Homo sapiens: one gene and its partner. The protein of the gene in region 2 interacts with the protein of the main gene of each other region in a pairwise test. Each region holds a gene or a part of one and is shown on either strand. Other genes may lie near its edges.

What was found. The genes of interacting proteins can lie anywhere in the genome.
Region 1: the proteins of KRTAP5-1 (region 2) and SMOC2 interact in binary tests that used the Homo sapiens proteins (3 or more experiments, as listed by UniProt).

What each region holds. Positions count from the first base shown.
Region 1 is NC_000006.12:168,444,155-168,451,183, reverse strand, and holds part of SMOC2 (SPARC-related modular calcium-binding protein 2 isoform 2 precursor), read right to left. Parts: intron 1-7,029. UniProt on the Homo sapiens protein: Promotes matrix assembly and cell adhesiveness. Can stimulate endothelial cell proliferation, migration, as well as angiogenesis.
Region 2 is NC_000011.10:1,583,836-1,589,842, reverse strand, and holds KRTAP5-1 (keratin-associated protein 5-1), read left to right. Parts: upstream 1-4,559; 5' UTR 4,560-4,593; coding exon 4,594-5,430; 3' UTR 5,431-5,501; downstream 5,502-6,007. UniProt on the Homo sapiens protein: In the hair cortex, hair keratin intermediate filaments are embedded in an interfilamentous matrix, consisting of hair keratin-associated protein (KRTAP), which are essential for the formation of a rigid and resistant hair shaft through their extensive disulfide bond cross-linking with abundant cysteine residues of hair keratins.

The sequences.
Region 1 (7,029 bases), on a different chromosome or scaffold from region 2:
GGCGACCCGAGGGAGGGAGGGAAAGCTCAGTATTCAGCTCTCCTGGGCTTTCCCCTGGGGAATAAATCAGTGCAGCAAATGGAAAGGTAGCCTGAGGGAGTGAGCTCTAGCCACACCCATTGCTTGGGAGAATTAAGGCCAACCCATTCACGGGAAGAAACAGGATCCTGTAACACATTTGCATCAACTGGTGGCTGTATTTCCAACCTAGGATAATGGAATCAAGATGAAAATCTAGTTTGAATAAAAATAATACGTAAAGTATCATGTGGGGGTGCCAAAAAATTCAAAAAACAATGAGTGGTGGAAACTGGTTTAGCAGAATCTTAAATTTGGAGACACTTAGGATTATTATCTGATCACCAACTAGTGCCACCTCACAAGGTCACGTTCGGGTTTAAGTGACCAAATGCTTGTGCAAGACCATATCTGGTGTTGGGACCACATTCTTAAAAGGATATCAATGAACCAAAGCTCCAAACAGAACCCGGTGGAGAAAAGGAACTGAAAGTGTCAGGGCCCGAGATCATTCTTTTACATCCTGGGGAAGCAGCATCTACTACATGCATCCAGCACTTCAACATGAATATCTCATTTAGTCTACACAAACACCCCAAATACTGGAAGAGAGAACCCAGGGCCTGAGAAGAAAGGGGTAGAGGAACAGGGAAGAGAAGGACTGGCTGGGAAGGGGACCCATCTGCTGACAACCTAAGCATCTTGTTTAAATACTTAAATAAGGGGCCCTGGAAAATAGATGATGTCCGTTCCTGTTGATTCATTAAGAGATAAATGTTTAAAGATTACACAACTCTCAGCCTTCATTCAAACACAAACCCTTTCAGCATTCCTAGTTGACAACTTCTTATATAGGATCCAAGAGGAATTCTCCTTAGAACAAATTTCGCTCTATGGTGACTGGCATGACAGCAGGCCACCAGAATGCTCACATTATCTTTCTTGCTCAGTGTTCAAAACTTTATGTACATTTGTATTCCAAAGACAGAGGCCTAGACTGTCTTTGAAAGGGCCGTAATGTCATATTATCCAGATTGATTCACCAGTAAAAGCTACCTTCATCTTTTCTCTCTCCTTCCTTTTCTTTTTTCTCTTCTCTCTCTTCTCTTTCTCCTCCTCCTCCTGATAGATAAGCACATCTCAAGGAAGCAGCAATGACAGGATCCTGATTGAAACTCACTGTCCTTGGGAATGTAGGACCACAGGGCACAGTCCTGACCAGGGTCGGAATGGGATTTGATAGGCTGCTAACTGCTTCTTCTTTGATGCGGCCATTTCACAGTGAAGAATATGACTGTCCCTCTAAAGATATGTATGTTACAAAATTTAACTCAATTGTCCTTTGAAATGAAGGGATGACAGAAAAGCACGTGTTTATTTTATGCTTCATTAAAGGTAATGAAACCTTCTAGAGGGTCCAGAAGTGCTTGTCACACACAGGGAGCTGGACAGCCCAGAATCTTAATGCCAAAGAATGGCCATGCACGGTTTATCTGACAGTCCCAAGCTGCCAGCCACCGCAAAATGAAAGGATACTAACTTCTTTTTTCCAAGGTACATTTTAGGTTAGTTTTAATTGTACTTAAAAAAATTCTTGATTACATAGACCCACATCCCATGTGGCATGAATTAATATACAACCAAAACCAAAAATATACCCTAAAGTTGGCCTGATTCTTTTTCATCCAGATCTCTCAAATTATTTTTAAAATTATAAGCACATATGGAATTTCCTTTGTTATTTGAAATTTCTATCTCCTATCTAAAAGTAATTCTCTTATTTAAAAGGTGACTATATTTTATGAAGTCATTTTCCCTCAATTCGATTGCTAATGTCAGGAAGAATATTACAGTGACCGCTATAAATGTGAGGAAAGTTTGTACACATGGTTCTGAGATACGACTTCAGATTTACATTTTTTTCTCAACGTTATAAGAAACGCCATGGCAGAGGAATAAGGGGGCAAGCGTGTGGGTGGATTCATGTGAAGACGGATCAATCTGCACAGACACTGGGAATCAGACAACAGAAGCTGGACACAGGGAGCCACAGGCAGGTCTGCGTTCACTTCTGAAGATGGGCGATGGGCCACAAATGTGGTTCCATGTGAGCGAAGAAAGAAAAAACCAGGTAATTAGGTGTAAAAAAACTGAACATGGGGGTTAGATTTTGAGTGGCACATTAGACCCACAACACCAAATGCAAGCAGGGCATCATAAAATAGTAAAATTGGAAAATATTTGGTGATATGTGTCTGCCCAACACAGGGACCCCATTGAGGTAATATCAACCCTACCATTCTAAAACTGAAAACGTGCCCAAAGACATTAGAATTATTAGTCTACTCACTCCAACAACACGTTTCCATCCTTGCTCAAAGTGCTACGAATATGTTAATTAGTACTTTACTTTAAAACGTAAATATGTATCGCAAGGCTTATGGTAGGAAGAGGGAGTTTAGCAAAAGATGTGCATAAGCCTCATTGCCTCAGTGGAGACAGGGTAGCCAGCACCATCCTCCTCCCCATCACCATCCTCCCCATCACCATCCTCCTCCCCATCATCGTCCTCCCCATCACCATCCTCCTCCCCAGTTCTGTCCTCCTCCCCATCTCCGTCCTCCTCCCCATCCTCATCCTCCTCCCCATCACCATCCTCACCATCCCCGTCCTCCTCCTCATCCCCATCTTCCTTGCCATCTCCGTCCTCCTCCCCATCCTCATCCTTCTCCCCATCATCGTCCTCCCCATTGCCATCCTCCTCCCCATCTCCATTCTCCCCATTGCCATCCTCCTCCCCATCTCCATCCTCCTCCCCAGCGCCATCCTCCTCCCCAGTGCCATCCTCCTCCCCAGCCTCCTGGGAGTGGTTCCACACCTTCTGCTTTGCTCCTGAAAGCCCAGGTCACCACCAGGAGGGCTGCTCAAGTCCAGCACAATGTTGCTTTCATGGCAGAGAATTTGAAAGAGTCTCTTCTGTGGGAGGATTTTGCTCCTTCACAACTCAGCCCTCAATATCATCAACTCACCACTAATCCTAGTCACAAATCGCAGGTCGGTTTGGGCCTGATGTGGGAGAATGCCTACCATCTTCCTGGTCCACTGTGGGCTGATACATGGGACAACCCTGACCTGGGCAGGGAAAGCCTTCAGGAGTCAATGTCCCTAATCCCAAGAAGAAATCAAATGTCCATGGTGACACCCAGCTGGTATGCAGGGTGGATTTATTTGATTCTAGCGCCTTCACTGATCACTGAACAGAGTAAGAGATAAACAAAACACCCTGACGCAGGCAAGGTCAACTTACATACCACAGCATTTTTTTTTTTTTTTTTGCCAACAAACTGGTGAACTTGTCCTTTAAGAAGTGACTAAAATCCAGCAGACTCGGTATCCAAAATGAGATGGGCCTAATGGTGACCTGCACTCAAGGGCTCTGAACCCCTGATCAAACACACCACAGGCCATCGTGTTTACCTACAACTCTTCCACCTTCAGAAACTTTGTTATTATTGGAAGACTCTTTTCTAAGAACCTCAAATGTTAAGAGTTTGCCTACCCCTTTCCCCCCAAAAATGTCTGCCCTCGGCTGGGGGCTAGGGCAGGGATAGGAACAGTGAGAGATGATGCAGCTGGCTCTAGGGCAGGGCCCAGGGCACCCACACTTTAGCAGAAGGAAGGAGTGTGAGGAACAGAAACTAGAAAACCCTTCAGGGAGTCTCAGCTGGTGCTAAAATAGAAATAGCAGCATCCACGGTCAGTATCTTGGTAAAAGGAGAAGCAAAGGAAGTTTCTTCTAATTTGGGCAGAAGCATAAAAGAGAAAGAAAATCGATGACCAGCCACAGTGAGTGGATCACCTGAGCTCAGGAGTTCGAGACCAGCCTGGACAGCATGGCAAAACCTCATTTCTAAAAAAAAAAATACAAAAAATTAGCCAGGCGTTGTAGCGTGTGCCTATAGTCCCAGCTCCTCAGGAGGCTGAGGCAGGGGAATCGCTTGAGCCCAGGAGGCAGAGGTTACAGTGAGCCAAGAGTGCACCACTGCACTCCAGCCTATGGGACAGAGCAAGACCCTGTCTCAAAAAAGAAAACAAATAGATGACCACGGGGAAGAAGACCGTAAAGTGGGCAGAGATATGTGCTGAAGGAGAACGTAGCCTGGACATGCTATATTGACATTTGCCTTCTCTTAAGTGACAGTTTAATTGGTGGATATGCCACATTATGTCATACATAATAAAAATCAAAATAAAATCGTGGTTCATCAAAAAGAAGTCATTCTGAGACTCTCTGTGTTGAAAAATCTAGTTAAATTAAGCCAGATATTATAAAATTTTCATTTGTAATTTTTTAACCCTAAACATATAAATGTGATTTCATATTTTACTTGGTTCTCTTTATTTGTTTTATTACAATCTTTGCTATTTGATGTCTGGCCTGGAACTGCAAAACCACATAAGAATGTCTGTTATTTTCACTTTCAGAGCAATTTCTTTTTAGCCCATAGGAAATTAGGAATCAACAAAAATATTAATTCATATTATAAATCTTCCCTCTTGTGAGCTACAGTTAAATATCCAATATATTAACTGTTGTACATATGTTACAGACACACAATGACTAATGCTGGGATCTTGCTCTATTACTCAATGCCATCAATTGGAGAAACATAAGGGCTGGCAGTTCTAAAGACTATTTCTTTAATTTTCTCCTCTAACTTCAAAATCCTACTGGAAATTCATCATTCTAAGTTTGTGTGTTGTATGTGTAGAACAGTTTATCTTTTGTTTTTGTTTGTTTTTGAGACAGAGTCTCACTCTGTCACCCAGGCTGGAGTACAATGGCAGGATCTCGGCTCACTGCAACCTCTGCCTCCTGGGTTCAATGAATTCCCCTGTCTCAGCCTCCCAAGTAGCTGGGACTACAGGTGCGTGTCACCACACCCAGAGAATTTTTGTATTTTTAGTAAAGATGGGGTTTCACCATGTTGGTCAGGCTGGTCTTGAACTCCTGACCTCAGATGATCCACCCGCCTTGGCTTCCCAAAGTGTTGGGATTACAGGCGTGAGCCACTGCGCCCGGCCCAGTTTATCTTCTAATTCAAAAATATATAAATGTTACCCTTGACCTCCAAACCAATGTTCTGCTGACAATCTTAATAACAATCCCCATTCTAAGATCCTGGATTGGCAAGAAGGCTTATTTTGATATAGAATTACTGAGAAATCTGTTCGGTTCTGAGCCATTGCAACTGACGTTACATCCATGCCCATTGGCTGCATGGTCTTGTTAGGGACTGCAATTGCTTATAGTGTTATTTACGGTCTTGATTTCACAGCAAAATTAAAGTGATTCTTCCAGATGTTTGGGTTTTTAGACGCCATGTAAATGGGCTTCTAAGTTGGAAAATTTTGATTATGTTTAGTTCTCTCCTCCTTAACCACCTTCGTGGTCCGTCTTCTACTGGGGAATGCAGTAGAAGCCCTCCCAGAGCATGAAATGGACTCAAGGCATTTGCAATGGAAGAAGAAAGGAAAAAAAATCACAGTAATTCCCTTGAAGATCCAAGGCTGAGTGAGAACTATATCAAAACAGGATGAGGTACGCATTCCAAACCACAACTGCTCAGAAATGGAATAGCATTTTTATTTTGGCTGTTTCAGCAAAATCAATATTAAATCATCTCATGAACTTGCTAATGAAACTTTAAAAAAATTACACATGGCTAAATATTGTTTTCTTATCACCTTTCTTCTCTTTCAAAGCAAATAAACACAAATAGGAGTGGGAAATAACTGTTTCAGGTCTGTGGTCATGCATTCCACAAGACCAATAAGAGGCATTTACCAGGTGCCAGACCCTCTGTGAGAAGATGAGGATTCAGGATGAAAGTCAACTACAGTCTGAGAGGTGAAACGGCAGTGTGGAATTGTAAAGTTCCTGAAGACAGTGCAAAAAACAGTGCAGGGAACTCCCACGAAGAAAGAAAAATAATGGCAGGATGACTTGAGAAATATTCGGATCTGCTTAGTGACCAGGTGCCCTTCAGAGTCTCTCAAAACTTCAGTTTCCTCATCTCTTGAATGTGGAGACAACGGTACCTTTAACGAAGTCGTGCGTATGACCTTAGGGGAGCGTTAGGTATTGGCAGTAAGAGAAGTCTGAGAAGGATGGTAATGTGACTTCAACATTCTAAGTGTGAGCAAAATATGATTTAGTCAACATGGGAATGAATACTTTGGCTCTAACCAAAAACTTCTGGGAAAGGGGTCCCAGGCAATATTGTTCTTCTCTCTGCCTTTAAAGAAATCACCTAGGTATGGGCTTATGGATCAGTCCATCAAAATTCATATAATGACAACCATGATAAAGTTGAGTAATTGTGATCACGCCTGTTTGCTCTTTGAAAACAGAATTATGTGTAATAAAAACCATTTATACTAGAGATCATTCCCTCATCTCAGTCATTCACAGAAATAAAAAGGAAAATGGGCACGGTGTGGCATTCAATGTACCTCCTTCTTCAAGGAAGAAATTGACCTGCATCCAAATTAAGAGCGCATTGGACACACTTAAGAATGCCATTGTTGACTGGAGGTGAGAGGGTCTGAGCAATAACCAGGAAGTTGTGCAAAGCCATCAGAAAGTCACAATGAGAGACACAGAGGGCCTCATGGTGCCATTTCTAAAGAATGACTTTGGTGGAAAGAAGAGAGATCATTACCAGACAAAGTGGATTCTCTGAATCTTAAACATAAAGTAGCAGAGGTGAGCACACCAGCAATGCTGGACCCACCAAGAAAGCACACTCACCATAGGTGAGTAAGACAAATGCGTGGTCCTGAGAAGCCAGGTATGGCAAACTGAAAGCCCCAGAGAGGCTGACATATTTCCCTGCTTCTAGATGAGAAGAAATGAATGGAGTAGAAGGAGGCAGAGAGGCAAGCTTTCCTCCTTGGTCTATAGAGTCCCACATGGCTACTCCCACAAAGTCCACAGATACACCCAGA
Region 2 (6,007 bases):
TGAAAATGCAGGCTGTCTACTGATGAATGCTCGGGAGGAGCAGGAAACAAGCCACCTCCATGTGAAAATGCAGGCTGTCTACTGATGAATGCTCGGGAGGAGCAGGAAACAAGCCACCTCCATGTGAAAATGCAGGCTGTCTACTGATGAATGCTCGGGAGGAGCAGGAAACAAGCCACCTCCATGTGAAAATGCAGGCTGTCTACTGATGAATGCTCGGGAGGAGCAGGAAACAAGCCACCTCCATGTGAAAATGCAGGCTGTCTACTGATGAATGCTCAGGAGGAGCAGGAAACAAGCCACCTCCATGTAAAAATGCAGACTGTCTACTGATGAATGCTTGTGAGGGAACTTCCGGAGGATGTTTTCAGGAAGAAGGAAGCTGAGCCCGGAAGGAAGAAGTATGGTGTAAGCAAGAACCACGCCTAGAGTTGTTGGTGGATGTGTGGCAAGTTTAAGCAAATACTGACTATAAATAAACAATGATGAGCAATGTGAGAGGAGCTAAGACGCTGGAGAAACTCCCACAGCTGACACCGGAGGGGCTGGGCAGGGGAAGAAGCTGTCCCCAGCTCCCTGCACAACTCTCAGCAGGGGAGGAATAGAGGGCCATCACGTGTAGACAACATTTGTTTAAAAATACACATGAAATGCATAAGGTTGCTGCTAAAAACAGGAATAGTGTATATAACTTCTAAGTCAGTCAAAGCAAAACAAAATAAAAACAAAAACAGAACCTTAAAAACTCCATCTAAAAGAAGAGGGGAAGGAAGCACTACCACAGGATGGTGAAATGCAAAGGGTGGTGGGAAGCAGCCCACGTATGTCAGAAATCACAGCAAACCCCACAGGCTTAGCTCATCGGGTAAAGAACAGAGACCCCAAAATATGGGAGCTTTTAAAGCAGCCCCACAGTAGTTACCTCACCCAGAAGCTTGCAGAAAGGCTGAAAGAAGCTGAATGAAAATGACTGCAGAAAAGGGAGGGAGGGAGGGAGGGAAGGAAGGAGGGACAGATAGAAAGCCCAGATGGCAGTGACTCTCTATCGCACGCCTCCTGGCCTGACAGTCCACGTCCAGCAGACAGTCACGCACCCCAGCACCCGCATGTTTAGAAAGTGCAAAAAGAACAATGGAGAAAATAAAGATATGAGCAGAACTAAATAAAAATGTTTAACACATACAACAAACAGAATCAACAAAATCAAAAGCTGGTCTTTCAAAAGACAAAGAAAATCAACAATATTTAGCAAAACCAATGAGGAAAAAAAGGGTCGGGCAGGAGAAAGAGCATGTATAACCTGAAGCAGGGATGAAAAACGGCAAATAGGCTGGGCACGGTGGCTCACGCCTGTAATCCCAGCACCGTGGGAGGCCAAGGCAGGTGGATCACCTGAAGCCAGGAGTTCGAGACCAGGCTGGCCAACATGGCAAAACCCTATCTCTACTAAAAATACAAAAATTAGCCAGGCATGATAGCAGGTGCCTATAATCCCAGCTACTCGGGAGGCTAAGGCAGGAGAATTACTTGAACCCGGGAGGCAGAGGTTGTGGTGAGCCGAGATCACACCACTGTACTCCAGCCTGGGTGACAGAGTGAGACCCTGCCATAAAAAAAAAAGAAAGAAAAGAAAGCAAATAATGACAAATTTAGCAGCTATTAAAAATAACAGGCTACTAAGCCAGGCGTGGTGGCACACGGTAGGGATTTGTAGTAGTCAAATGTGGTAGTCTGTAGTAGTCCCAGCTACTTCAGAGGCTGAGGACCACTTGAGGCCAGGCGTGAGTTCGAGACTGCAGTGAGCTATGATGGTGCCTGTGAACGGCCACTGCACCCCAGCCTGGACAACATAGCAAGATCCCATCTTCAAAAACAGAGGCAACTATGAAAAGTACATCCCAATAAATTTGAAAAACTTAGAATAAATGACATCTATGTTAAGAAGAAACACAGGAGGATGAGGCAGGAGAATTGCTTGAACTCGGAGGCAGAGGTTGCAGTGAGCCGAGATCACACCACTGCACTCCAGCCTGCGCAACAGAGCGAGACTCTGTCTCAAAAAAAAAAAAAAAAAAAAGAAGAAGAAGAAGAAGAAGAAACAAAAGGCTGGGCGCTGTGGCTCTCGCCTGTAATCCCAGCACTTTGGGAGGCTGAGGCAGGTGGATCATGAGGTCAGGAGACCAGCCTGGCCAACACGGTGAAACCCTGTCTCTACTAAAAATACAAAAATTAGCTGGGTGTGGTGGCACGTGCCTGTAATCCCAGGGGAGACTGAAGCAGGAGAATTGCTCAAACCAGGGAGTCAGAGGCTGCAGTGAGCCGAGACCATGCCACTGCACTCCAGCCTGGCAACAGAGCAAGACTCCATCTCAAAATAAAAGAATCCAGAAAATTCAAAGAACTTCAGACACCAATAAAAATAATAATGATCTTGGCCAGGTGTGGTGGCTCACACCTGTAATCCCAGCACTCTGGGAGGCCGAGGTGGGTGGATCACTTGAGGTCAGGAGTTCAAGACCAGCCTGACCAACATGGTGAAACCTTGACTCTACTAAAAATACAAAAATTAGCCAGGTGTGGTAGCACATGCCCGTAATCCCAGATACTCGGGAGGCTGAGGCAGGAGAATTGCTCGAGCATGGAAAGCGGAGGTTGCAGTGAGCCGAAATCGCACCATTGCGCTACAGCCTGGGAGACAGAGCAAGACTCTCCATCTCAAAAATTAATAATAATAACTATCTCAATTTTGTAAAGTGGGCCAAGGACGTGAAATTAACGAGACTCTAATGACAGGTGACCATATGGAAAGAGGCACAGCATGGCTAGTAACCAGGAAGAGGGAATATTAAACCACAGTGTGTAACACTGTGTTACACACCCACATGAAGGGTGTAAGTTGACAGTTGCAAGTTTTGGTGGGGGTGCCAGGAAACAGGAGCTCTCTGGCAATGCTGGTTGGACAGCAGCTGGCTGGGGGGATCCCTTGGGAAGACAGCTTGGTAACAAGAACCTCCTGACTTTCAGGCACCCACACCTGCAGGAGGGGTTTTGGGCAAGAAAGTTGCAGCTTGCTTGAAATAGCAACAAAAAGGAAACAAAAGGTCCATCAACAAGTAAATGGATAAGTCAATGTATATTTAGAAATCAGAGAAAACAAATAAATTAAAACCATATGTATCCCTAGAGAAAATCTCTTTAGCCTAACACCTATTTTTTTCAAAAGCAATTTACAGAAAGAGAAATACAGTGTAATACCCATTACATAAAGTTTTCAGCATGTAAAATTTTTTTTTCTTTTTTCTTTTCTTTTTTTTTTTTTTTTTTTGAGATAGAGTCTCACTCTGTTGCCCAGGCTGGAGTGCAATGGCGTGATTTCAGCTCACTGCAACCACTGCCTCCCAGGTTCAAGCGATTCTCCTGCCTCAGCCTCCCGAATAGCTGGGATTACAGGCACATGCCACCATACCTGGTTAATTTTTGTATTTTTAGTAAAGACGAGGTTTCACCATGTTAGTGAGGCTGGTCTCAAACTCCTGGACTCAAATGATCCGCCCACCTCAGCCTCCCAAAGTGCTGAAATTACAGGTGTGAGCCACCGCGCCTGGCCACAAAACATTTTTAAAGGAACATACATATTAAGTAGGAGTGTGAGGACCTTCATGAGAGTGGTGAATTCCAAATTCAAGAAATTATTAGGGTGGGACAGAAACAATATGGAGAGATGGAGGAACAGAGACTTCATTTATTTATGCCATTTTTTCCCAAGTTGAGTAGGGTTTTTTTTTACATTTTTTAAATATATTACTCTTTATACCATCGTTCAACTAAAATAGATCACTTTTTTTTTTTTTTTGAGACAGAGTCCCGCTCTGTTGCCCACACTAGAGTGCAGTGGTGTGATCTCTGCTCACTGCAACCTTCACCTCTGGGTTCAAGCCATTCTCCTGCCTCAGCCTCCCAAGTAGCTGGAGTTACAAGCATGCACCACCATGCCTGGCTAATTTTTGTATTTTTAGTAGAGATGGGGTTTTGCCATGTTGGGCAGGCTGGTCTCCAACTCCTGACCTCAAATGATCCACCTGCCTCGGCCTCCCAAAGTGCTGGGATTACAGATGTGAGCCACCACACCCAGTTAATTTTTGTGTTTTTAGTAGACACGAGATTTCACCATTTTGGCCAGGCTGGTCTCCAACCCCTCACCTCAAGTGATCCACCTGCCTAGGCCTCCCAAAGTGCTGAGATTACAGGTGTGAGCCACCATGCCCAGCCTAAAATAGATGCTTTTGTAAATCCAGTGTGACTCTGGAGTCAACAGGGAGAGGCTAGACCCTTGGGGGCCTCCATTAAGTCTGGACACAGATTCAGCAAGAGAGCAGCAGCCCACTGAGCAGCCCATACACCAAGGGGCGGATTTCTAGAGGAAACAAGAAAAAGGGGCCCTAAAAATGGCACAAACAGGAACCAGGAAATGTGTGCCCAGCCTCACACATGACCCTGGGCAGGGATATAAAGGGTCCAGGCTCAGGGAGCTCCACACCTGCACCTCCCTCTCACCTGCTCCTCTACCTGCTCCACCCTCAATCCACCAGAACCATGGGCTGTTGCGGCTGCTCCGGAGGCTGTGGCTCCAGCTGTGGGGGCTGTGGCTCCGGCTGTGGGGGCTGTGGCTCCGGCTGTGGGGGCTGTGGCTCTGGCTGTGGAGGTTCTGGCTCCAGCTGCTGTGTGCCCGTCTGCTGCTGCAAGCCCGTGTGCTGCCGTGTGCCAACCTGTTCCTGCTCCAGCTGTGGCAAAGGGGGCTGTGGCTCTTCTGGGGGCTCCAAGGGGGGCTGTGGCTCCTGTGGAGGCTGCAAGGGGGGCTGTGGCTCTTGTGGGGGATCCAAGGGGGGTTGTGGCTCCTGTGGGGGCTCCAAGGGGGGCTGTGGCTCTTGTGGGGGATCCAAGGGTGGCTGTGGTTCCGGCTGTGGGGGATGTGGCTCCAGCTGCTGTGTGCCTGTCTGCTGCTGCAAGCCCATGTGCTGCTGTGTGCCAGCTTGTTCCTGCTCCAGCTGTGGCAAAGGGGGCTGTGGCTCCTGTGGGTGCTCCAAGGGGGCCTGTGGTTCTTGTGGGGGCTCCAAGGGGGGCTGTGGCTCCTGTGGAGGCTGCAAGGGGGGCTGCGGTTCTTGTGGGGGATCCAAGGGGGGTTGTGGCTCCGGCTGTGGGGGCTGTGGCTCCGGCTGCGGTGTGCCCGTGTGTTGCTGTTCCTGTTCCAGTTGTGGCTCTTGCGCGGGGTCTAAGGGAGGCTGCGGGTCATCCTGCTCCCAGTGCAGTTGCTGTAAGCCCTGCTGCTGTTCCTCAGGCTGTGGGTCATCCTGTTGCCAATCCAGCTGCTGCAAGCCCTGCTGCTCCCAGTCCAGTTGCTGTGTCCCCGTGTGCTGCCAGTGCAAGATCTGATTTCTGGCTTTGCAGGACTCTTACCATGGCCAGGCATTCCTGCCCAGCCTTTACCTCCTTTTCCTGGCACCCAGTGAGCCAGACTCTCCTTCCCCACCCACTACCCTATCTCCCACCCTCCTGCCTTGCCAAGCATGAACACTTCTCTTTGACCTTCTACCAAGAAATGCCATGGGCCCATGCATCCAAGAAGAATGACTTTCAAGGCCTCCCTTCCAGGCATCTGGAGACCAGCCCCCCACCGCCCCAGCCACCTGCAGCAAATGCCTATCCGCAAGCCCTGCCTGCTGGCACCACATCCAGCACGGACAGCCCTGCAGGACAGCCCAGGGTGCTTGCTCACTCTGCAGTCACTAGGAGTTCAGATCTCTGTCCTTTAAACATCCAATAAACCGCTCACCCCAGCACCCCATAGCTGTCTTGGTATATTTATGTTTATTTCCCTCTCGAGGCAGGTGGGGGGCATCTGTGGCTACACTGGGTCCCCTGGGAACCACACACACACACACACACACACACACACACACACACACCGGCCCTGAACCAAACCGGAGCAGGCAGGTGGGCGCCCTGGCCA